2 separate regions of the Homo sapiens genome follow, and region 1 is linked to region 2. Evidence: fine-mapped QTL for protein levels in blood plasma. A gene starts in region 2. The other region holds a variant in brackets. All regions are shown on one strand. Distances are between the middles of the regions.

Evidence for each region. A credible set is the group of variants that fine-mapping cannot tell apart. PIP is the posterior inclusion probability: the model's chance that the variant is causal. The UK Biobank Pharma Proteomics Project read protein levels with antibody pairs (Olink). The fine-mapping took linkage between variants from a reference panel, not from the people measured, so its PIPs are less certain.
Region 1: its variant is the best candidate, but not a certain one, in a credible set for the plasma level of the LACTB2 protein (UK Biobank, PIP 0.81).

The regions. Positions count from the first base shown.
Region 1 is chr8:70,612,096-70,624,844 of GRCh38, reverse strand. All of the region lies in intron 1 of LACTB2-AS1 (LACTB2 antisense RNA 1), which reads right to left. Among named protein-coding and RNA genes, the nearest start is that of LACTB2-AS1, 9.9 kb to the right of the region's middle. RefSeq lists an enhancer at 7,221-7,300. The variant C/T (reference allele first, on the strand shown) is at 7,214.
Region 2 is chr8:70,662,792-70,675,540 of GRCh38, reverse strand. LACTB2 (lactamase beta 2) reads left to right here and starts at 6,356. Exons shown (of 7, transcript NM_016027.3): 1 at 6,356-6,542. The coding sequence starts at 6,421. It overlaps XKR9 (XK related 9), which reads right to left and starts at 6,202. Exons shown (of 5, transcript NM_001011720.2): 1 at 6,003-6,202; 2 at 642-723. It overlaps LACTB2-AS1 (LACTB2 antisense RNA 1), which reads right to left. Exons shown (of 4, transcript NR_038881.1): 4 at 12,262-12,749.

The sequences.
Region 1 (12,749 bases), 51 kb after region 2:
AGACCTGCAAGATGAGTCTAAATTGAAAGGGTCTACTTAATATCCAACAACGTAAAAAAGATAAAACAATCCAAACCAAGACATACCATTGTGAAATTTCAGAACATCAGAAATAAGGAGAAGCTCTTAAGAGATTGTAGGTTGTAGGTGTGGTGGTAGGATTAGGGATTTGTAATCACTTAGAAGGGAACACAAATCAAAATGGCACTGACGTTTTCAGTGCTCAATGGGTATTAGGACAGAAGGCCTTCAAAAATCTGAGGGAAGGCTGGGTGCAGTGGCTCACACCTGTAATCCCAGCACTTTGGGAGGCCAAGATGGGAGGATTGCTTGAGGCCAGGAGTTTGAGACCAGCCTGGCCAACATAGCAAGACCCCATCTCAAATAACTAATGAATTTTAAAAATCTGAGGGAGAAATTATTTGCATCCTAGAAATGTATAACCGACCAATTAATTATGTGTGAATGTAAGGACTCAAAAAGTGTATCTGCCATGCAACTCTCTTTAGAGAACTGCAGGATGATAATACTCTAGAAAAATAGGAAAAAAGGAAAACACAAAATTGAAATAGTAAATCTACCACAGAAAAATGCCAAGAGGAAGTTATAAGACAAAGGTGTGCCCAGAGCCTTCTCCAGATTGGAGCGGGAGGAAGGGGGAGCTTCAGAGAGAGAGATCTCCAGGGGGAAAAATGGAACCAATATATTATCTGATATAGTTGAGCACTGGGGGTAAAAAAAAACTGCTGGTGGTCATACAACAGCTCTAGATGAACAATTGAAATAATGAGTTCATAGAAAACTACGCAGGTAGAAAATATGAGACAATTGTTTATTCCAGAAAACTAAAGTAGTGCAAGGAAGGAAATAATCATGAAATACTTTCTGCCTCTGCATCTTTTCTTAGGAAATAGTGTAAACACTGACCAAAAAATGGTGATACAGGATAACAGGAGATAGGAAGTGGGAAGTTAAGAATACTAAATCATCACCTATGATAATAGAAAGTCAATAAAGCCTAAAATTGGCAAATCAAGAAGTAGTAGAAGTGTTTTATTGGTTAATACTAGAAAAAAATGTCTAAAAGAGTTTAGTCATTGCCTTTGGGAAGTGTGGGACTGGGAGGAGAGAGAATGGAGAAATGTTTTTCCTGCTGTTACTATTTAATATTTAAATTACGTCTATTTATTAGTTTGGTAAAAATTTAAATTTTTAATGTCAAAATACTGATAGTATGCAATGGATGGGTTCCAACTTTTTAGTTCAGTGGAATAAGCATTTTTGCCCTAGAATTTTTATCCTGCAAAAGCTATCAGGAATTGGAAACAACGAAAGGTACATGCTTATTTATTGCTCACTTAGGTTTAAAAATAGGAATTTTCAAATTCATATTATTTCATGGATGCTATTCTGAAGTACAAAGTTTTCCCTAAAAAGAAATCCTGCACTTAGTATCTAGACTAAAGGACCTAGAGAATTAAGGTGAACTGGATTCAGACTTCTATGACCTTTACTGCAGTATGAAAACCATCTAAAGGGAACTAGATCCAAAGTTACCTGAATCCAGCAGGGTGCTATTTATATGTCTATGGTAGATCCCACCTTTGTTTTTTAGTCACAATATATTAGAGTATTAAAAAATCTATGATAGTTCAAGTTTCTCTCACTGAGAGTTGACTTGAATTTAGGATTCAGTAACTAGTAACTAGATTCGATAACTAGTAAAGAGAAAAAGGACCCTGCCTCTATCCCTCAGTCTTCAGCCAACACCACATTTTCTCTGTGTGTGGTCAAGTTACTACTAAATCTGTAGGAATGCAACATTTATATGGCAGACTCCCCTACTTATTTTTACTAGTGTTTTTAAGAAGTATGAGATGACTATGACCACAAAGAAGCACTCCCCTTAAGAATATTTTTTCCTGATGTATTTGAAAATAAAGACCAATCTTGAAAATCGTGTTGCTACAAATCAGATGTTTCCAAATATGTTGGGTTGCAGCAATTCAGGACCATATATATGACCTTATATTACATATGGTTGTATTAACACAGTGATGTCTTTGGCTCTTTAATGTTTTGAGTAAAGTGCATCTCTACCAAAAGACTAGTAAATTTGTTTTCCCATGTTTTATCCCATGATTTTAAAAGGTTTTAATCCATTGAGTATGAATTTCTTCTTTTTAGAGTGAGACTAATATCTACTCTAGTGGCATATAAAGCAACCCATGCTTTTAATATTTTCCTGAGTGTTGAAGAAAAGTTTTACCAGAAGTGTTCTGGTTTTATACCACAGAAGTCTTCCCAGCTTATAGAAGTAGATTAACCCTGCTTCAGTTTTCAAAAATGGTGAAAATGTCTATTACAAATGGTATACCTTAACATTTGATATCTAAACCTAAAATGCTAAGGACTGTTGTTAACCATCCATTCTCTCAGTGTAAAAATGCGTTCCTGGACCATTTGTATCACTGTCAATTGGTGGCTTATTACAAATGCAAATTTCTGGGCCCCAAAGGAGTACAGTTTTTTCAACTGGCCCAGATGATTCTTTTACTACAGCAACAGAATTGTAATTTAATATTATGTTGGTGGCTTTTATTTTGTCAAAAGTCAGTATAAAGACACAGACATATAAGTCTGAGTGTGGTGGTACACACCTGCAATCCCAGACCTTTAGGAGGCAAAAGGCAGGAGGTTGGCTTGAGGCCAGGAATTCAAGACTAGCTTGGACAACATTGCGATACTGGTCTCTACAAAAAAGTTAAAAATTAGCCAGGCACAATTAGCTGGGCATGGTGGTGCACACCTGTAGTCCTAACTACTTGGGAGGCGGAGGCAGGAGGATCACTTCAGCCCAGGAGTTTGCTACAGTGAGCCACAACTAGCATCACTGAACTCCAGCCCAGGTGACACCAAGACTTTGTCTCTATTAAAAATAAAAAAAATAGACAGATAAAATCTTACCTGTTTTTTTTAAATTCCATTGAGGACATTGTCTGTTTTATTATCGAATGTTCTTCAATGTCAATGGAACAAAATCTCTTTCTGATTTCAGAGCTAGAAAAAAAGTTTGTCTCTCCTGTGAACTTCTATGTTTCCTTTATTAGAGTAGTGCTTGTCAAATCTGATTAATTCTCAGAATTTCCTGGGGAACTTTTAAATTAAAACAACACAGCTTCTCAGCTGTAAGACCATTCACTGGACTCTCCTGGTGAGGGACAGCCCTTGTGATACTGATAATTAGCCATGTTTCCAAAACTCTACATGGGATAATATCTAGTTAATTCTCCATGATCACTTTTTGCCTTGGCTTCCTGGAAGCTAGTCTTACAGCAATTATTCTTGGAATTCAGTTATTTAATGTAATTATTCTCCATTTCTTTCCCTATTATATTACTTGGCTCATTTAGTATGTTTTTAATACATTTCAAAATGGGAGGAAATAACCTAATAGTACTGTCTTTTAGACCAGCACATTCCTTGCAATAGCATTTAAGCCTAAAATAAATAAGTTACTAGGATTATAGAGTAAAAGAATATTATGGACTTTTAAAAATTTCCTCATTCAGTTTTATGGAGACTATGGGAAACTTATCATTTGAAAAGGACTCTGAAATTTGCTATTAAAATGACAGATACGTAATTAAATTCCTGATCCCCCTTAAGCCTCTTTCATATGGACACCCCCAAGACTAAATGCATTGTTCTTTCTTTTTATTCACCACATCAACGAGCTAATCCATTTTGGTGGTGTTAACATTACCACCATGCTGAATAATTTCCAAATGTGTGATTAGCTTGAATCACTCACCAAAGCCCCAGGCCTGAATCTTTTGCTGTCTGTAGGGATCCTTTATTTGGCTGTCTCCCAAAGACCAGACATGCATGTGAAGAAACCCAGTGCACCTAAAACCAAACTTTTCAGCTTACTGAACAATTTCCTGATTACCTCCCTTTCCCTACACACCATGTGGGTAAATGGCATTACCATTCTCCCATGTCCCAAGCTGAATTAGTCCTTTGTCACCTTTGTTTCTTTTTAGCCCCACTCCACTTAACTGGGAAATATTTATGCTACAATTTGAGGATGTAGTTTGAAGGCAGATCGAAAACCAAAGAAAATGCTGATTGGTATAAGTGATACTCAGAAGGAGGGATAAATGGCCTAAGAAATAAAAGTGGTTTGCTTCACAGGGAGAAAACCTATCATTTGTCTTAGACAGACTCAAGGATTTATTCCTTTCTCTTCTTTCCCTAGCCTAGTGCTCATTTCCTAATTAAAATCAACTACTATTAGTTGATTTCCCTGTATGCAGCCTATTCCTGTTTCCATTTATCATGGTGGTGGTATTAACAGTTTAGTAATATTTGTCTAATCAGCCTTCATCTGTAGAAAAGCAATGGTAATAGGATCTGACTCAATGAGTTGTTGTCACTATTAAATAAGTAGTTTGTAGTGTTAGGCATAGTGCTTGGCATCCAATAAATATTAATTTTATTTTGATGTTGTTAACAGTACATTCACATATTCCCTTATGATTATTTCACTTTGACTTATACCAATTAATTGCCACAAAGTACCATATTTAGTCTTTAGTATAATCTGACCATAATTTTATAAGCTAAAATTCACATTCTTCATCCTGGGAGTTAAAACTTAGTTGTAAAACCTTAAGTTATTTTTCTGAGCCTCTATCTCCTCATTTGAAACAGGGATAACATTATGTTCTAGATTTATATAAAGTTAAAATTAGTAATGTGTATCAAAAGCGCTTTGGGAACTGCAAAGAATTGTATATGTTATAGTTTTAATTTGTGCCATAAGCTTTGTCTTGGAACACATGGACTGATGCAAGCAAGGAAGGAGCTCCAAAGAATCCTTGGCCATCACCCCAAGACCTGGGTTCTACTAGGCACTGAGCCACACACCAGTTTTTGATGGCTACAAGATATCTATTCAGTTCCATCAGTCACAAATTCCCTGAGGCATAAGTCCTTCTAATTTGGGGAAGGCATTTTGCACAAAATGATGTTGTCAATGTTTAATTCTCATCAGGTGAAAATGTTCTACTTGGTGGTCCGTGGCAGATGTCAGTGCATAATAGCCTTATGAAGCATCCCCAGAAACTGCTGCTGTCTCCAGAATGTGCCAGCCTCCCAGGAACCAATTACCTGTCACCATTTTCCTGTCTGTTCCTAAGAACTAGAACCCTCTTGAAAGTACAACAAATTCAAACTGAAGTCCTTCCTCTATCTGTGATTGCTGAAATTATTTTAGAAATCACCCTACTAGATATGCCCACAGTCCTTGGCCATTGCCTCAAATACAAGTCACTCCATCCATTCTTCTCATTCACTAACATTCACATTACTGTTGGATTTTTCTTCCCTGATCCAACCACCTCGCACTGTTCCTGTACCTCCAGATCCTTTACACCATGTTCTCTAGGACATCAACGGTGATTCTACTTGTCTAGTACTTGTTCCTCCACACCTTCTGGTACTAAACTAACCCTACCCACAAGGAAAAGCATGTGGCCAAGATGGGCCACAATAATTGACCCAGAAATGATCATGCAACCTAAACCAGCCTACTTTAGGTCTTTCCTTGGAATTGTTCTGATAGAACCAGCAAGTGACCATGTTCTCTGCCATGTAAATAAAGTCCATTTACAACAGGAAAAAGTGAAGCCAAGCTGAAACAGAAGACAAAAGAAAAATAAAGAGAGAGAGAAAGGTAGAGAGAGAATCTAATGAAGTCAAGTGCCTGGTTCTATTTCCTAAGATCCACAATGCACCCTGGCTCCTGAAGCTTTTCTTTTGACTCTCTTAACTTTTGGTTCACTATATTCCCATTTCAGTCACTTGCAACTAAAAGAGTTATAACTAATATAATTCATTCCATTATAAATAAACTTCCTACAACTTCTGCCACTGCACCAAACATTCCCTCTCACCAGTTGCTTTAACTATATACCAGGCTCTCCCCTCAAAACACCAATCCCTTTCAGCCCTCTTAAATGAACATCTTTCCTCTGTCAAACTTTGTATGTCTTGAGGTGGGGCTAATAGCCTTCTCCCTCTCCAAACCATTCACTGCCCCCTATGCCTGAAAAAACCCTGTTCCTGCTGACATATTTCCTTGGGCCCTTATTACTGCTACTCTCCACTCATTCATTCTGTTAAAATAAGTAATTGGCTGAGTGCGCTGGCTCACACCTGTGATCCCAGCACTTTGGAAGACCGAGGTGGGTGGATCACCTGAGGTCAGGAGTTCGAGACCAGTCTGACCAACATGGCAAAACCCTGTCTCTACTAAAAATATAAAAATTAGCTGGGCATGGTGGTGGGAACCTGTAATCCCAACCACTCGGGTGACTGAGGCAGGAGAATCGCTTGAACCTGGGAGGCGGAGGTTGCAGTAAGCCGAGATCACACCATTGCACTCCAGCCTGGGCAACAGAGCAAGACTCTGTCTCAAAAATAAATAAATAAAATTAAAAAAAAAAATAAGTAATTGGGCAGTCATAAGGCCAATGAACACCTTAGGCTCCTACACAAACAAACTAAAACCCAATTCAATAGAAACAGTAAACAGACACTTAAGCTTAACCAATCACAAACCACCAACTTACCTCTAAGGACTTCCAACAGATTGTACCCAAATAAGGGAAATGTTTAGCTGGACCCAATCAAGTAATTCTTTTTTTTTTTTTTTTAGACAGAGTCTCACTCTGTCACCCAGGCTGGAGTGCTGTGACACAATCCTGGCTCACTGCAACCTCTGCCTCCTGGGTTCAGGCGATTCTCCTGCCTCAGCCTCCTGAGTAGCTGGGATTACAGATGCGCTCCACCACGCCCAGCTAATCTTTGTATTTTTAATAGAGATGGGGTTTCACCATGTTGGCCAGGCTGGTCTCGAACTCCTGACCTCAGGTGATCCGCCCACCTCAGCCTCCCAGAGTGCTGAGATTACAGGTGTGAGCCACTGTGCCTAGCCAAGTAATTTCTTTACTTGTTCAGCCTATAAAAGCCTGCTGCTCACACGGCTGAAACACAATTCTGTGAACCTCTTCTGGTTTTGAGTGCTGCCTACTTCGTGAAACCTTTAATGTTCAAGTAAACTCTGTTAAATGTATTTTGCCTGTAGTTTTTATTTTTAACAATTCAAAACAGAAACTTGGCTCACAGTTCTCCTTGCAGTGCCCTT[C/T]CTGAGTTCACCATCCACATGGAAGAACATCCACTGTCATTCTGTGACTGCCCTGTCTCTACTAGCCTCTCCTCCTACCTCCATCCTTTTGGTGTAAAAAGAAGTGTCCCTTCCTATGTAAAGTTCTAGTGGATTCCAAAGTTTAGAAACCTCTGTCCATCATTTTGCCCACCTCTTCCCCCTGTCTTCAGCCTGTTCATCTCTCCCCTCCTTACCATCTATTAATAAACATGCTCAACTGTGACATCACTCAAAAAACAAAAACAAAACCTACCTTGACTCCGTTATTCCTCTTTATTTACACACCCTGCTCTCTTCTCCCCTTCAAAGTTAAACTTCTTGAAAATATTCTCTCTACTTCCTGTTTCCATTTTTCACTTTGCATTCACCACTTACTGAAACTGGGCTCTCTTTCATCAGAGAAGTAGTACTCAGGCCCTGATGTGCTTGGTTAAATAGGGTGAGAAAGTCCACCTTGTGCTTGGGCTCCTTAAGCTTCTATAGGTCACAGGATTACATTCTACCCCTAGAGAGACACCTAAGTAGTGGTCAGATGGGTCACAGAATCTTCGTAGCCATTACCAACCAGCTCTCTCCGAATTGCCAGATCTACCTCTAAATGTGACATGCCATCTCCTGCCAGTCTTACATACTAGTAGCAACACTGTTTTATAAATTTGTTTTCTCGTTTCCATAGCAGCGAAGTGTATACTCAAGGAAATCATATAATTTCCAAGTATTAATGAAGTGGTTTTGCTTCCTCATGAAAATACAATTTCCTTCTCACCAGATGAGTACGATTTTATATTTTTAAACTCACTGTAAATGATATAACAATAGCATGTAAACAGAAAAATGATCTGTTGGGGTCTTTTTCATGGGCTTTGTGTTTCTACATAGGCAGCAACCAGTCTCTTGAATAGATCAGCAATGAGATAAGATTGAGAATCACTGCTCTCTGAAGAGTCAGAGTCTTCCTGGCAAGTACAGACCCTGCAGGACTGTTTACATGAGACAAGAATGGGTTTCTTTGCTGCACAGCGATGCACACTTGTAGTTCCAGCTACTTGGGAGGTTCTCTTGAGCCCAAGAGTTTAAGGCCAGCCTAGACAACATAGCGAGGCCCTGTCTCAAAAAACATCAAAAAGAATGGGTTTGGCAGGCATACAGATACCTGGACCTATGACCTTGGGCAAATTACTTAACATCTCTGAGCCTCAGCTTCTCTGTCTTTAAATAAAGACAACAACACCTATTTTATAAGATTTATGTGAAGACCAAATGATATATGTAAAGGCAAAATGCCTGGAATTTAATAAGCATGTAACAAACATTCGTTTCTTACTTTTCATCAATTTGTCCCCAAGGAGAGGTTGAAATCAAACAGTCCCATTTTAGTTCTAACTTATTTCTATTAGGTAATTTCTTGTACCTACTTTCACATCATCTCAGAACAGGTTTTTCATTCTTATACATGTCTTGTAAGGCCACATAAACACAACCTCATTGAGGGCAAAGATCATATTTCTGTTCTTTTATATTTCTCATAATTACAGCAACCTTGTACCACAAATTTTCCTGGATAGATCTAATCCCAAAAAGCTGCCTTCTGTCCTACAGTCATTAAAAGAATCCTGAGAATTTTAGGATCCAGGCTATGTTTGCCAAAGTCTTAACTTACTTGGAATGTGGCCTCCAGAGCTGAACACACATAAGAAATCAATCTGCCTGAGGGGTCCCTGGTGGGATAGCTCATCCCTGTAATCCCAGCATTTTGGGATGCCAAGGCAAGAGGATTGCTTGAGGCCAGGATTCTGAGACCAGCCTGGTCCCCATTCTAAAACAAAACAAAACGAAAAATCTGCTAAGGGAGGCCTCCAGAGCCCATGTGTCTTGGTAGGACCACTTTCCCCACCACCATGACCTACGCTTGGAGAATTTAATGGCAGCCACCTTTCACTATAAACTTAAGAGGCTAATCCTAAAAAAGAAGCTAAAATTATTATTAAACCTCCACATTCCCCTAAAAGACCTCAGGATCATTCTGTAATGCTTCAAAACTCTTTCCACCTTAGTCACCTCCAGAGTCAAACCTCCATTGTTATCCATCATCACCACAATCTCCTCCCCACAAAGCTCTATTCATCCTTTTATTTTGCTTAAGCCAAAAGCCCCTTCGCAGCCCCCAAACTCTTGCAGTGTATCCCCCAAAGCTCCAGGTGTGCCATCTACCAAATCCCCAACACCCTCTGCCTCTTTCTGAATGTTTTCTTCACCTTCTCGCTCAGAAACCTGGAGGCAGCTCTAACTGAAAACTGAAACCTGCTTCCCTGGAGCCTTCTCAAGAGGTGGCTGTTTCTTCCCTCCCACGCACCACATACCACAGAGCCTAGGGGTGGAATGGGTGTCTTTCATGGTCCTCATTGCTGCTGACAGACAATTCTCCTCCCTTGCTCAAAAACCCCAGCTTTTCTGGAAGTCCATGCCCTGAAACTACACCACCCACTACCCTCCTGTGGCAATCATCTGCCATCCTCTCAGGCTCTTCCTCATTTGCAGCAGATGTTAGTGCCCAGCTCCCTCACTGGCTCCCTTTCCATTCTTCTCCTTCACTCATTCTTGGTGATTTAGCATCCATGTGCTGAGCACCTTAGCCTCCTACTGCCTTGACTTCTCACTCTCAAAGCTCTCCTCCTCCATTCACCTCAGCTACCCACTCCCACCTTTCTACCCTGTGCATCTCATTGCCAGTGACTGCACAACCTCTGAAATCATTTCCAGCATCCCACTCTCTCACCACTTCCTCCTCAGCCAGCCCCCCTCCACAACAATTCTTCAGCCCCATAGGTGCCTCCAATTCAGAGGCCCTAGCACTATTTCTCTGTCCTCTGTCTCTGTCAGAGAACTGGCAAGGAATAGATGGCCCATTCAAAAGAATTTAGCTGGAGAGCACTTAATGAAGGGCTTATTCACAGAGGAGTAGCAGGTTGAATGAACCAACAAGGGATGGTGAAGTATGCGGGGAGTAAGAGCATGGGAAGCTATTACAACCAACAGCCTGAAGCGGCGGGGGAGAGAATGAGGTCCCTGGAGCCCACTTAGAGCTGAAACAGTAACAGAAAAGCTACCTGACACAGGCAGTGGCCACAGGAGAACAAACATAGTCACTGTTGGAACCATAGTAAGGCAAGGAGGGATGATGGGAGTATAAAGAAATCCCCAAACCCTCTGTTTTTTGGCTAGTGTCTTCCACAGACTTCCAGTCCCATTCCAATGGGAAGTCAAGGGCGAGGGAGCCCCAGTACTGCAGTCTGCAGACATTTGCCTTTCACAGCAGAAAAGGGTGGACTCTCAGGGCAGAGGGTGACAGTATAACAAGCATGACCACCACCTCATGGCCTTCACTTCATCACCCCTGCCCTCACCCTTGCACATCCTCCACATCCTTTGTCATACTGGCCTGGCAAAGCCCAATTCTGCCTTCTCCATACCTGTATCCAAACAGGGAGATATGCCTGGAGAAAATTATGTGGCTCTGCTTACTAGTCTCGCTTTAAATGTATGGCCCCAAATCTCAAGTGGGCCCTGCTGTCTGATTACATCCCTTTAATCTACTCACCCTCCACAGTTTTCCTCCATTCTCTTCTCAAATGTCATCACACTATCTCCACTCCTGATGATTTTGTTTCCTATTTTACTGAGAAAGCAGAAACAATCAGAAGCAGACAACTTCATCTTGCCATTATCAGCCTACCCCTAAATTCTGCCCTCTATCTGGTTGCTGTGGGCACCCTATCTTGTCACTGTGGTCAGCTGTGCACTACATGCCATCAACTCTGAGCTGCTCAAGGACTTTGCTTCTGCAAGCAACTCCTGTAGAATAAATCTTTCTTATAGATCATTCTCATCTGCATGCAAATACATCATAATATAGCTCATCCAAAAAGAAAAGCAAAACCCTTCCCTACACCTCTCTTCACCACGTGCCCATTACTCCGCCTTCCCTTGCAGGGAAATCCCCTCAAATGAGTTGCTTATACTCATGCCTCCATCTTGCCATTTCCCATTCTCTCTTGAACCCACTCCAGTCAGCCATTTGTTTCTACCATTTCCAAAGAAAATACTGTCTTAAAGGTCACTAGTGACTCCATAAGAGTCAGGGTCCTAGCAGAAGCAAATGGCATGTTTAAATTGGATGATTTGGGGAAATTTGTATAAAGGCACTCTCTTCAAGCGTGTGGGTTCGGGTAAGGAAACGGCAAATGATACTGCAGTACCCCAAGGCTATAAACAATAGGGTCCCTGAAGGAGCAAGACAGATAATTACCAAAGCCCAAGAGAGATTTGTGGAGAGAGGGTCTCCTGACAGAAGCCAGGACCTTCTGTGGAAGATAGCAAGAGTGCAGGGTAGGAGCCCACAGTGCATGACAGGGCACTGTCGCGGTCCAAGGACTCATCATCTCCATCCAATGTGGAAATCCTCAATGGGAAGTCTCTGTGCTGGAGCTCTACACACAAGGCTGGCCAAAACTTTCTCAGCTGCACCTCAGTCTGAGGCTCTTCCTGCCTGATCCTTCTTCCTTCCTTTCACAGGGATCAGATCTACATTACAGCCTGAAGCTTTTCCCTGTTAACTCCCCTCCCCTTTAATTTTCACAAATGTTATTGCCAATAAGTCTCTTATGCTTCTAACTCCTTCTTGGCATCTATTTCCTGGACAACCCAAACTAACATAACCACACAACCTCCATCTTACCAAACCCAGTGGTCACTAGGCGCAATGGCTCACACCTGTAATCCCAGCACTTTGGGAGCCTAAGGCGAGTGGATCACAAGGTCAGGAGTTCGAGACCAGCCTGACCAACATGGTGAAACCCCATCTCTACTAAAATACAAAAATTAGCCAGGCCTGGTGGCACGTGCCTGTAATCCCAGCTACTCAGGAGGTTGAGGCAGGAGAATCACTTGAACCTGGGAGGCAGAGGTTGCAGTGAGCTGAGATCGTGCCACTGCACTCCAGCCTGGGCAACAGAGCGAGATTCCATCTCAAAAACAAACAAACAAACAACAACAACAAAAACCCAATGGTCATCTCAAGTCCTATGGCTGGCCAGAGTATGATATGTTTAAGCAGCTGAAAGAAGACCAATGTGGTCTTCTCACAAAGGAGTGAAAAATCACCAGATTCTAAGGTTTGAAAGGACCAATTTCAGTTTAAAAACTGACATTAGTAGAGCAATTCATTTCCAAATGACCTAGAACACTTCTACTGCACCTTGCACTGTCTCTTTGTAAATATCCATCACATTGGTCATTGTTTACTGTCTGTCTTCTATTCCAGGTATGCGTTTCAAGAACAAAGACTAAATCTGTCTTGTTAATAATTATATCCTACAACTCAGGACTTGCTTGGTGCATTGCAAGTCTTCTTTAAATATATTTAAAATGAGTAACTTTGTAGAGCCATATATCATTTTTATGTTTGTTTCTTGGTTAAACTATCTTAAGGTTTTATTCTCATTTATGTGAGGTATTT
Region 2 (12,749 bases):
GACTGAAAATTTGAATTTATATTTAAACAGGAAGCAGAGCATAAAAGTTTGAAAAATGTGCAGCCTGGCCAGGTGAGAGAGAAAGAAAAAGCTTCTTCAGAAGAGGACTTTAAGCAGGCTGTACAGCAACCACTTGCTAAAGATATTTGCAAAACTAAAAGGGAGCCAAGTGCTAATATCAAAGACAGTGGGTTCGAGTGATTCTTCTGCCTCAGCCTCTCCAAGTAGCTGGGACTACAGGTGCACACCACCAAACCCAGCTAATTTTTGTATTTTTAGTAGAGACGGGGTTTCGCCATATTGGGCAGGCTGATTTCGAATCCTGACCTCAAGTGACCCACCCACCTCAGCCTCCCAAAGTGCTGGGATTACAAGAATGGGCAACTGCACCTGGCCCTCGTTTCTTATAAATTACCTAGTCTCAAGTATTTCTTTACAGCAATGCAAGAATGGCTTAACACAAACGGTTTCAATCCAATTCCAAATATCAACCTAGCTATGTGGCTACCTGGCTGCGAGCCGAAATACGTAACTTTTGCCCACTGTACAACTATCTGAGATAAAGCAGATATTTAAAGAAATTAAAACTAGGAAACTTTCCCTTGTCAACCAAATATAACACATATAAAACATAGACTTACTTGTCAAATATAAAAAGCCATCTTTGACTCAAAGTCCCTTCTGGAAAAATCTTCATCTTGTGAATATTTTACTTCTTCTTCACTAAAAACAAGTATAATTAAAGGATGTGTAAACCTTTAAGATCGAATACTAAAATGAAACTGAAATCACCTGTTAGTCATATGTGGCATTTTCTAATCTAGTGATAAGAGTCTGTGTCATTGTGAATACAGTACACCCTTTTATAACTATCTCATTGAGAGGAAGAAATAGCATAGGTCCTTTCATAGGCTGACTAGGCTCCAAGCTTTCACTGTATTTGTCAAATAAGTCAAGAAAATACAATTTGTCTCACAACATATCCAAATGGATAACATGTCATGTTTGAAAAGGAGGTTCTTAAATTTGAAGTACTCTAACAAAGTATCATAAACTCAGCCCTACCTACTTTTCAACCTTATACCTTCTCAAATCTTGTGCCCCAAAGAGCATATGATTGTTGGTCTGTATTCCCAAAATAAGCACTACTTTTCTTCCATTTCCAAGCCTTTGCTCAAGGTTATTTACTGCTGTCTAGAATAACTGCCATCTATCTGATGAAATTCTGTCAATCCTTTAAGAATCAGCTCAAAACCCACCATCTTTAGGCTTTCCCAGATCATCCCAGTATGTTTCTCCCCTTTCTCCTTGCAATCTCATCACTTCAGCTGTACTTCTCTTCTAGTATTTACCCACATATGCTTTTTTTTAAGAGACAAGGTCTTGCTCCATCACTCAGGCTGGAGTGCAGTGGCACAATCATAGCTCACTATAACCTCGAACTCCTGGGCTCAAGCACTCCTCCAGACTCAGCCTCCCAACAGTGCTAGGATTACAGGCTCATGCCACCATACCTGAACCCATATATACTTTAAAAGTATCTCCTTCATGGTTATGACCCTCTAGAAAGCAAAGATTATCTTATTCATTTTTAACATGCCCTCAATATGTCTACAACATTACCTTGCATGTTGTAAGTAGATAATAAACTATTGTAAGTGTAACTGAACAGAACGTGAAAAATATTTGATCTGATTTCTTGGAGAGGAACTTAAACTTCAAGTCACATTTCTAAACATATTCACAAAGACTTAATTTTGTATCTTTTTTTTTTTTGACATGGAGTCTCACTCTGTCACTCAGGCTGGAGTGCAGTGCCGCGATCTCAGCTCACTGCAACCTCCGCCTCCTGGGTTCAAGTGATTCTCCTGCCTCGGCCTCCCAAGTAGCTGGGATTACAGGCACCCGCCACCATGCCCACCTAATTTTTGTATTTTTAGTAGAGACAGGGTTTCACCATGTTGGTCAGGCTAGTCTCCCAAAGTGCTGGGATTACAGGCGTGAGCCACCACACCCGACCAAAAAATATATCTAACTGTCCATAGGTTTCTTTACCTGGATATACCACAATTACCTCAATTTTATCTCATCTAAAACATAGTCACTATCTACCTTCTATTTGTACTCTTTTTCTAGTATCTCCTTGTATGGCCCTATGCAAGTTGCCTTACTTTTAAATCATTTGGCCTATTCCTTCATCTGCCAAATGAGGAGCTTGGCAATTGATTAAATGGAATCCAGAAGGAAAGTGCAAGTGAAAGTTTAATTTTTAAAAAAAGCTAATGAAGCTGGACCTTGTCTCTCATCATATGCAAAAGCCAACTCAAGAAGGATTAAACGTAAGACCTTAAACTATAAAACTACTAGAAGAAAATATTGGTAAAATACATAAGGACATTGGTTTAGGCAAAGATTTTGTAGCTAAGACCTCAAAAGCACATACGACTAAAATAAAAACAGACAAATTTGACTATATTAAATGAAAAAGTTTCTGCACAGCAAAGGAAACAATCAACAGGGTGCAGAGACATCTGCTGAACAGAAGAAAATATTTGCAAACTATTCATCTGACAAGGGACTAATATCCAGAACATACAAGGAACTCAAACTCAACAAGAGAAAACACAAATAATCCCACCAAAAAGAGGGTACAGAACATGAATAGACGATTCTCAAAAGAAGACATACAAATGGCCAACAAACATATGAAAAAATGCTCAACATCACTAATCATCAGGCAAATGCAAATCAAAACCATAATGAGATATCATCTTACCCCAGTTAGAATAGCTGTTATTAAAAAGACAATAACAGATGCTGCAGAGGATGTAGAGAAAAAGGAACTCTCATACACAGTTGGTGGGAATGTAAATTAGTACAACCGCTATGGAAAACAGTACAGAGATGTATAAAATACACACACACACACACACAGAACTACCATATGATTTAGCAATCCCACTACTATTTGTATATCAAAGGGACAACTGCACCTGCATGTTTATCACAACATTATTCACAATAGGAAAGATATGAAATCAACCTAAAAGTCCATCAACAAACAAATGGATAAAGAAAATGTGATATATACACACAATAAAATACTATTTGGCCATAAAAAAATGAGATCATATTTCTGAGGGCTCTGTTCTGTTCCATTGATCTATATCTCTGTTTTGGTACCAGTACCATGCTGTTTTGGTTACTGTAGCCTTGTAGTATAGTTTGAAGTCAGGTAGTGTGATGCCTCCAGCTTTGTTCTTTTGGCTTAGGATTGACTTGGCAATGCGGGCTCTTTTTTGGTTCCATATGAACTTTAAAGTAGTTTTTTCCAATTCTGTGAAGAAAGTCATTGGTAGCTTGATGGGGATGGCATTGAATCTGTAAATTACCTTGGGCAGTATGGCCATTTTCACGATATTGATTCTTCCTACCCATGAGCATGGAATGTTCTTCCATTTGTTTGTCTCCTCTTTTATTTCCTTGAGCAGTGGTTTGTAGTTCTCCTTGAAGAGGTCCTTCACATCCCTTGTAAGTTGGATTCCTAGGTATTTTATTCTCTTTGAAGCAATTGTGAATGGGAGTTCACCCATGATTTGGCTCTCTGTTTGTCTGTTGTTGGTGTATAAGAATGCTTGTGATTTTTGTACATTGATTTTGTATCCTGAGACTTTGCTGAAGTTGCTTATCAGCTTAAGGAGATTTTGGGCTGAGACGATGGGGTTTTCTAGATAAACAATCACACGTATGTTTATTGCGGCACTATTCACAATAGCAAAGACTTGGAACCAACCCAAATGTCCAACAATGATAGATTGGATTAAGAAAATGTGGCACATATACACCATGGAATACTATGCAGCCATAAAAAATGATGAGTTCATATCCTTTGTAGGGACATGGATGAAATTGGAAACCATCATTCTCAGTAAACTATCGCAAGAACAAAAAACCAAACACCGCATATTCTCACTCATAGGTGGGAATTGAACAATGAGATCACATGGACACAGGAAGGGGAATATCACACTCTGGGGACTGTGGTGGGGTCGGGGAAGGGGGGAGGGATAGCATTGGGAGATATACCTAATGCTAGATGACACATTAGTGGGTGCAGCGCACCAGCATGGCACATGTATACATATGTAACTAACCTGCACAATGTGCACATGTACCCTAAAACTTAGAGTATAATAAAAAAAAAAAAAAAATGAGATCATGTCATTTTCAGCAACATGGATGGAACTAGAGATTATGATAAGTGAAATAATCCATGCATAGAAAGACAAATATCACATATTCTCATTCATACGTGGGAGCTAAAAAGTTTATCTCAGCCAGGCATGGTGGCTCAAGCCTGCAATCCTAGCACTTTGGGAGACCAAAGCAGGAGGATCACCTGAATCGCTTGAGTTCAAGAGTTCAAGGTTACAGTGAGCTATGATAGTGCCACTGCACTGCAGCCCGGGTGAAAGCCAGACCCTGTAAGTAAATAAGTAAGTTAAGTAAGGAAATTAATTAAGCCAAAGAATAAAAGAAGGGGAGTGCCCAGATTCTCAGGAATCTGGTCCAGAAATTACTGTTCCATCCTCTTCTCCAGGGTTCACTGACTTTCCAGCAGAGTTCTTAAAAAGGGAAGATGTGCAAAGCCTCCTGCCTGAATAGCCATTAATTGATGGCTATCATAAATACATATTGACAGATTGAAATGCCTGATGTAGGAGATTTGGTTACTTTAAGTATTTTTTGAAGGGTATACTGTTTAACTTCCCATTGCAACAGGGGATAACTTATATGATTATTTCAGCGATGATTTTTTGAATATTTTTCCATTAAAAGTACAACTGTGTGAAACAAGGCAAAGACATTTCTCACACACAAAGCAGATGTCATTAGCCACTCTGATACACTATGCTGCTGATTCATAAAATAGGTAAGAGCAGATCGTTTTCTTCATCAGAAATATCTGGAAAAAAAAAAGCCACCAAGCACTGTATGTGTCAATTTCTCACCTTTTTTTAAAAAAAAAAAGAGTGGGCTGCTACAGTGGATATGTTCTACATCTCTTTGGGGCAGTGATTACATACAATTGTCATAACTCGATGGAACTGTCTACAGGATCTGTGTATTTTCTTTTAAGTAATTTATAACTCAACTTTTTTTATGGGAAGCTGTAGTTAACACTGGATAGTTAATACTTGGCTGATAAGAAACCGACTTGTTACAGAGAAAATGAGTCCCTTCCATCTTGGGCACAAAACGGCTCCACAAGACCAGCCTAGCTCTCTGGGCAGGCAGGTAACACTGGCAGGCAGAGGCATGCTCCTTGAATCTCACTGAGGGGGACAAGTGTTAGTGCGAGGCAGGTAGGAGCAAGGCCGCACACGCAGACTCTGTCATCTGGGCAGCTGCCCAATCCCCGTTTTTCATTTGTAACAAAAATAGTGTCCACCTCTTAATAATGTTCTGAGGATTAAGGGCGTTAAGTCGGATGTTTGTTGAAAGCACTTAGGCATAGTAGGAAGTACTAAGTAAATATGTCTTACCACTATTTATTATAAAAGATGAACAGGCTGGCCCGGCGTGGTAGCTCACGCCTGTAATCCCAGCACTTTGGGAGGCCGAGGCGGGCGGATCACGAGGTCAGGAGATCAAGACCTTCCTGGCTAACACAATGAAACCCGGTCTCTACTAAAAATACAAAAAATTAGCCGGGCGTGGTGGCGGACGCCTATAGTCCCAGCTACTCGGGAGGCCGAGGCAGGAGGATGGCGTGAACCCGGGAGGCGGGGCTTGCAGTGAGCCGAGATCGCGCCACTGCACTCCAGCCTGGGCGACAGACCGAGACTTCGTCTCAAAAAAAAAAAAAAAAAAAATGAACAGGCTACTACTACTACTACTACACACACACACACACACACACACACACACACAGAGCCACTGCCTAAAAATCTGGCAATCCTTCCTGACATTTATTACTGAATAACGAACGGTTACCAAACCTGTCTCCCAAATCACAAGACTCTTCCAGATTAAAATGTCTCTCGCCCACTTGGATCCACTCGCCTGTCTAGGACACAAACCCGTGAGGCACCAGCCCCCGTGACAGAGGCAGATTCCAGCTTCGCCTCACGCCACCTCACGCCTCGCGCCAGCCTTCCCACCACTGCCCGCGCAGCCCGCGCGGCGTCACGTGACCTCTAGTTCCGCACCGCCCCCCCCACCCCCCGGCCTAGCTGCCGGATCCCCGCCCCGGCTCGTCCGCGGTGTCACATGACACCTGGACCAGCCGCTGGCCAATCCCCTCCCTCCCGGGTTGCGAGGCATCACGTGGACGCTACTCGCTATCCCCGGCCTGTTGGCTTCTTCCGCGCTGGAGTATCCAGATAGGCGACACGCCGGCGGGCGGCTGAGGCGGGAATGGCTGCTGTACTGCAGCGCGTCGAGCGGCTGTCCAATCGAGTCGTGCGTGTGTTGGGCTGTAACCCGGGTCCCATGACCCTCCAAGGCACCAACACCTACCTAGTGGGGACCGGCCCCAGGTAAACGTCCCTCTCCAACCTCCCCAACGTTCGCAGCCGGCCCCGGAGCCCGGGCTTTGACTGATCGCGGCTGCGCGGGCAGTGGAGAGCGCCGCGTCCTGTCCCTAGCTGGGCAGCCCCGCGCCTAGCAGCCCCGTCGGGACTGCACGCAGACACTCGGATCTCGAAGCTAGCTAAAATACGACCACCCCAGGTGATAGCTCTCTAATTTAGGGAGAAATGGAAAAAAAAAAAAAAAAAAAAAAAAAAACTTCTGTTTTGAAACCCGATTTACTGTTCTTGATGTTTGAATGCCAGGGTGTGCGTGTTTAAACTGTTGAGAAAATTCGGATGTCAAGAGTCCAAGAAAGCGTTTACTTTGCTCACTTGACTTTCACTGGTGTTTTGCCCAGAGTGTAACTTCCCTTCTCAAAAGCGATTAATTATGTTGAGGCGATTTCCTCAACTCAGCAGCAGAGGGCAGGATTCTCCTGGCTTCCAAATTGGTTCTCTGCAGCCTGTGGGCTCATAAGAGGAGCTGACATAAGTAATTTGGGGAAGTTTTTTGTTACAATTGTGTGTGACCTTGTTTGAGTTTAATTTGCAGACACAGTAACACACCTGTATTTCTAAGAAGATACTTTTGCTCTTGTTTAGCTGCATTCTGTTTTAGTGGAATTATGCAGGAATGGGAGATTTGGTTTACTGCATAGTAAGTCTTAGGCATTTAGCAACTTTTGTAGTCTTTACTGGATGAACCCAGATAATGTAGTTTCTCTTGAGCATAGAATTTAATTGTGCAGTCAAGACATAAATTATTTTTAAAATATAATTGATTACTAAAAACGATTTAGTAAGTACAGTTAATTGAGTTTTCCTTGGAAGTGTCTACTGTTTGGCGTTTTTCCAGTAAATAAGAATTTTAGAAGCAGCAGACCTGCAAAGTGGGCAGGTAAAAGATTAAGTTCAGAGTAAATAAGGCAGGGTCAGGTAGTTACCAAAGGTTTAGGCTGCCACCAGAATCTAGGAGGATAGAGAATTAAGCAGGAAAAATGCCAGATCTCTAGGGTACAGTCTGTCTTGGCTGGAAGTCCCTCAACCAAGTAAATCCATAGGCGGTCTCTCTACAGTGTGTCATCTTGAACTAGTCAATACCTCAGACAAAAGATGCATATTATCAGAATTACCCTGGAAAGTCTCTTAGAAGAACACCATGTTGGAGATCAGTGTATTGTCTCAGTAAGTTCAGCACAACCTGCCTTTTTTCCAGCGTTGAAACAGATGGCTGATTCTGTTTGAAAACCAGGTGAAGAAATTGGCTTGTGTTGAGGGGCTATATTGTATGAAAAATACATACTGTATCTTTAAACACTATAATCACACTCAACATAGCAAAGTGCTAGTGCTAAGAGAGACTTAAAGACTAACTGAGGGAAAAGCAGATTTATAGTCTCTCGTCTTAAATTACTTAACACTGTTGCTCACATAAATTAATGGAGTGGAATGGCCAGTGGAATTACTTGCACTATGTAAATTATTTCTCCATATAGTTGAACTAGAGAGTCCGTATAGTTGAGCTAGAAATAAGTGTAGATAATGCTACTGTATAAAGTAAAAGGTGTAAAGTAAAAGGTGGCTAGAAGTTAATATTAATTGGCCCCTTGTCAGATGTTCTGAGATTGGTATCCACCTGTTCCGCTTCACAAAACAGTTCTAAGATCACAAGCGGCTTTTGTATCACTAACCCCAATGGTATTTTTCTGTTCTCATCTTCCTTGAACTTCAGTGCTTTGACACCATTGACGACTCCCTCCTTAATTTGCCAACACCACATTCTTCAGGTTTCCTATTACCTCTTGAGCTGCTCTTTCTCTTTCACCTTGATAGAGTCATCTTCTTTATCAAATCTTTAATTATTTTAGTTATTCAGTATATAATCCTCATCTCTCATGTTCTTCTACTGTATTCTCTACCTAGGTGATCTCATCTACTTATTTGGCTTTGCCTTTATTATCTGTTTATTATTAACTACCAAATATATAGCTCAAGTTCAAATTCCAAACTTGATCTTCAGACTCAAGTAGCCAACTTTTAAATCTATTTGCATGACTCACTGCTGCCTGGAACTCAGTGTTTTCCATACTGAACTCATAACCTTTCCAGAAAACTGCCAGGTCCTCCTTCAGTTGTTCATATCTTGATAAACAAAGCCATCAAAGGAAATGCCTAAATACCCTTCCTGACATTTATTTGCTTCCTACTGCATATCCAAGCCATTATGAAGATCTGTTCATGTCCCCTGCTGTCACTCAGTCCAAGCCAGCACAACTCTTGCTTAGGCTACTGTAATAGCCTCCTAATTGGCTTCTGTACGACTACCTCTGTCTCTCTTCAATCCAATCTTCCCTTTGTAGCCTGAGTGGTATTTTAGGAATTAAAACTGGAAGGCCTTGTGTATTCTGGCCTCCATCAGTCTTATCAGGCTCCTCTCAAACCTCTCCCACTCCAGCCATGCTGGCCTTCTAGTGTCTCAGATGAGGTTTGTGATTCCCTGTCTCAGGGCCTTCACGCATGCTTTCCTCTTTCTTCCACTCATTCCTCCCTTCTTTACCCAGCTAATCTCATTCATCCTTTAGAGCACAGTTTAAATACCATTTCCTCATGGAAGTCTTCCCTGACCCATCAGACTGTATTAGGGACACTCCATACTTTTCATGGTCCTTATCTCAATGATAATGAAATGATTTTTTTGTGCAAGAAGCTTAGTGTCTTTCCACACCTTCATACCCCACTATAACATCAGTTCAGTGAAAGCATATTCATGGCTATATCCCCAGCACCTAGCACAGAGCCTTGTACACAGTTCAGGTAGAACAGTAAACAGTTGCTGAATGAATGAGCATTCTGTACATTTTCTCTTAATTTTCACTATTATGACTCCAGAACTGCTGGATAACTACAGTTTTAGCTGGTCTTCCTTCCTCATCTGATCAGCCCATGGAAGCCAAATGAATTTCACTAAAACACTGCTAGACCTAACTGTGATGCTTAGTACATAGGTACTCAATAAGCATTTGAATCAACAAATGACAGCCAAATTGTCCAGTGTTTTTACTTTCCTCCTCTGCTCAAGAACCTTTAAAAACTGCAATTTTAACCTTTCCTATCAAAATTGTACATACTTTGTGGGCAGACAGTGTGGCTGATAATAGAAAAAGGTAGTCAAGTGGAATAGAATTAAAACTCTGGACTCTGGTTACCTCGATTAGAATCCTGGTGCCATTTACTAGCCATATGACTTTGGACAAGACAGTTCTAAGCTTCAGATTCCTGATACAACCCAATGAAGGTTGTGTAGTACCTACCTCATTGGATTTTATAAGGGCTCAGTGAAATTTAAGTGAAAAAACGTATATGAAAAGCACTTAACAAGTTCTAGCACGTGGAAAACATACCATGTTAGCCATTATGTTTATCACTTCTGCTTTCCTCATAACATCTAGATAACACTGTGCTCATAGTAGGTGTTCAGAAAATATCTAATGATTTTATAAGAGTGACAGCAAATAGAGACCAGTTAATAGCTATCTTAATATTGACATGAAATACCTATAACAAGGAATTTGATTCTACTAATTTTCCATCAATTAAAAATTTTTTTCTCCATTCATGTAGCAAACAGTTATTGTGTGCCTACTATGTGCCAGGCACTTTGCTCTAGTGAATAAATCGTTCATAGACCTATACAGATTCATCCATACTCTTCCCTTGAGCCCTTCATTAGCATAATTTGCATTTGCAAAATGACCTCCTGAGATAGGGATATTATTATCTGTGGCCAAGAAGAACAAAGTCAACTAGCCCATGTAGAGATGATACTATCCAATCATCTATTATAACTATTTACAGACATCACTGATAGAGTAACTGTTTGCTAAGGGAGAAACTGATAACATTTTTTTCAATTTCAAAACTGATAACAGTTTTTTCAAATGTATAGCTGAAGTTTTATTTTTGCCACATAATGATTCTAAGCACTTAACCTAAGCAATCCCCTTCTGCTAGAGAGGCAGTGTTTTGAATGGAGAAGTCACTGGACCTTGTATCTGAACATCTAGTGCTTCCTAGCACTGCCTCTTGCTGGTTATATGACCTGGAGCAAATCACTTAGCCTTTCTGAAGATAAGTTTTCTATAAAATAAATAATTAATAAAGTAATAATACCTCCCTAGAGTTGATATGAGGATCAAAAGAAATAGTAAATATGAAAGCCCCAAATGGTTTAAATTGCTATGTCAATGTCATATGTTATCAGTGTGACTTTTTTTTTCCCTCAAAGCTTGGTGCAAACTCATGTTTTAGGTTTTATAGTATCTAGACACCCCTCCTTTGTTCTGAATAGATTGTATTAATTCCAGAACTTTTTTCTGTTTTCTTTCTTTTGAGAGCCCTTCTTTTATCAATTCCAATTTTGTTAAACCAAGACAGGACCATTAAGAGACCTAAAACTGGAGCCCCAGAAACATGTTCTCCACTACCACAGTCGTATGGTCACTCACACTTTCACCTGCAAACAACCAGCACAGGCATTCTAAAAGATCTGTTTTCTTTGCTACTAGATTTTATCAAATTCATGTATCAACCCTGTTAATTTTGTCATGACTTTTGATCAGTGTGATGTGATCTGGTCATTAAATTACAGAAATTTATATTCATTTTTAGATTAGGAGATATTTCAAAACAGAGTTTCTTGGGAGGACGGGAAGGCAAGGATTAAGAAATAATTTTAAAAGTGGTGGGGCCTTGATGGATTGAAAAAATTTGAGCCTTACCTGAAGCATGGAAGTATTCTTTTTGTGAGGACCAGAAGACCCACAAAAATAGTCCCAGTGACTCTACGTTAGGGGCAGTGAGAATTTGTGGTAAATAACTGCAAATGCATGGAGGCAGCCAAAATCTAGGATGGGTGGGCTAGAGAGTATTATTGGAGGTATCATAGTATTATAGTCTTGTGTATTTTAATTTAGCATAACTAAATATGCACAATGCTAAGTGCAGTACAATGTATTATGGATATAGAAATAAATCCATAAATTCCTTGAACCAAACAGACAAGCTTTCTGCCCTGAAGGGACTCAAATTTGTACGGTGGTGTTGGTTGTGGAAATAGGCAATAAAAAAATAAATATGTAAATACATAATATATTACATGGTAATAATTGCTATGGAAAAAAAGCAAGATAAGATGGCTAGGAATAGCATCAGAACTCACTCTGACCCGAGTCAAACTCATCTCAAATTTGCTCCCTCCAGGGTTTACCTTCTTGATTAATGGCACACCAATCCTCCCACCTAGAAACCTCAGAGTCGCCAACTGTTTCCCTCCTTCCACATCTCGTTGTTTAACAAATATCCTGGTGGTTGGTTGATTGTACCTTCTAAATGTTCTTAAAGCCATCTCTTCCTTACATTTCCACTACCAACAGAACCCTATAATAAATGCCCTCTTGGTCCAGTGTAACCATCTGGTCTCCTGTCTCCGGATAGGACAGTTCAACACTGTGTTTCTGAAGGACATCTACTGTGCTACAGAACATAGGGTGCAGATAGAAGCCAATGGGCTATGAGGCCATTACCCTCCTCCCTTATGAGAGGCCAGTTTGTTTTTGTTGGCTCTGGGTCTCAGGGAGTAGGGTTAGGGAAACAAACCAATAAAAAATAACCATCCAGTTACTCACTGTTTAATTTTAATGCTTTGCAAAATGCTTTCTATGGTATGTTACTTTTATTGTTTATTTCCAGTCATATGCAGTTCCCCTTCTCACCAACAGTTGAATGTAAGCAGGGTTGTTGTGTCCTGCTTACTGCAAGAAACAAATTTGTAGCACATATTAGGTAATCCATAAACAGTTATTGATCAATTAATGAATAACTCAGACTTTTCATCAAGGCTAATCTGTCAGCCAGCCTGAATTATTGAGGTGTTACTGTGAAACAGTATGAGTGAAGAAGTTTGTGAATTGGATCTTGAGCTGGGCATGGTGGCTCAACGCCTGTAATCCCAGCACTTTGGGAGGCTGAGGTGGGAGGATTGCTTGACCCCAGGAGTTAAGAGACCAGCCTGGGCAATATGACGAAACACCATCTCTACAAAAAATACAAAAATGAGCCGGGCATGGTGGCACATACCTGTAGTCCCAGCTACTCAGGAAGTAGATGTGGGAGAAT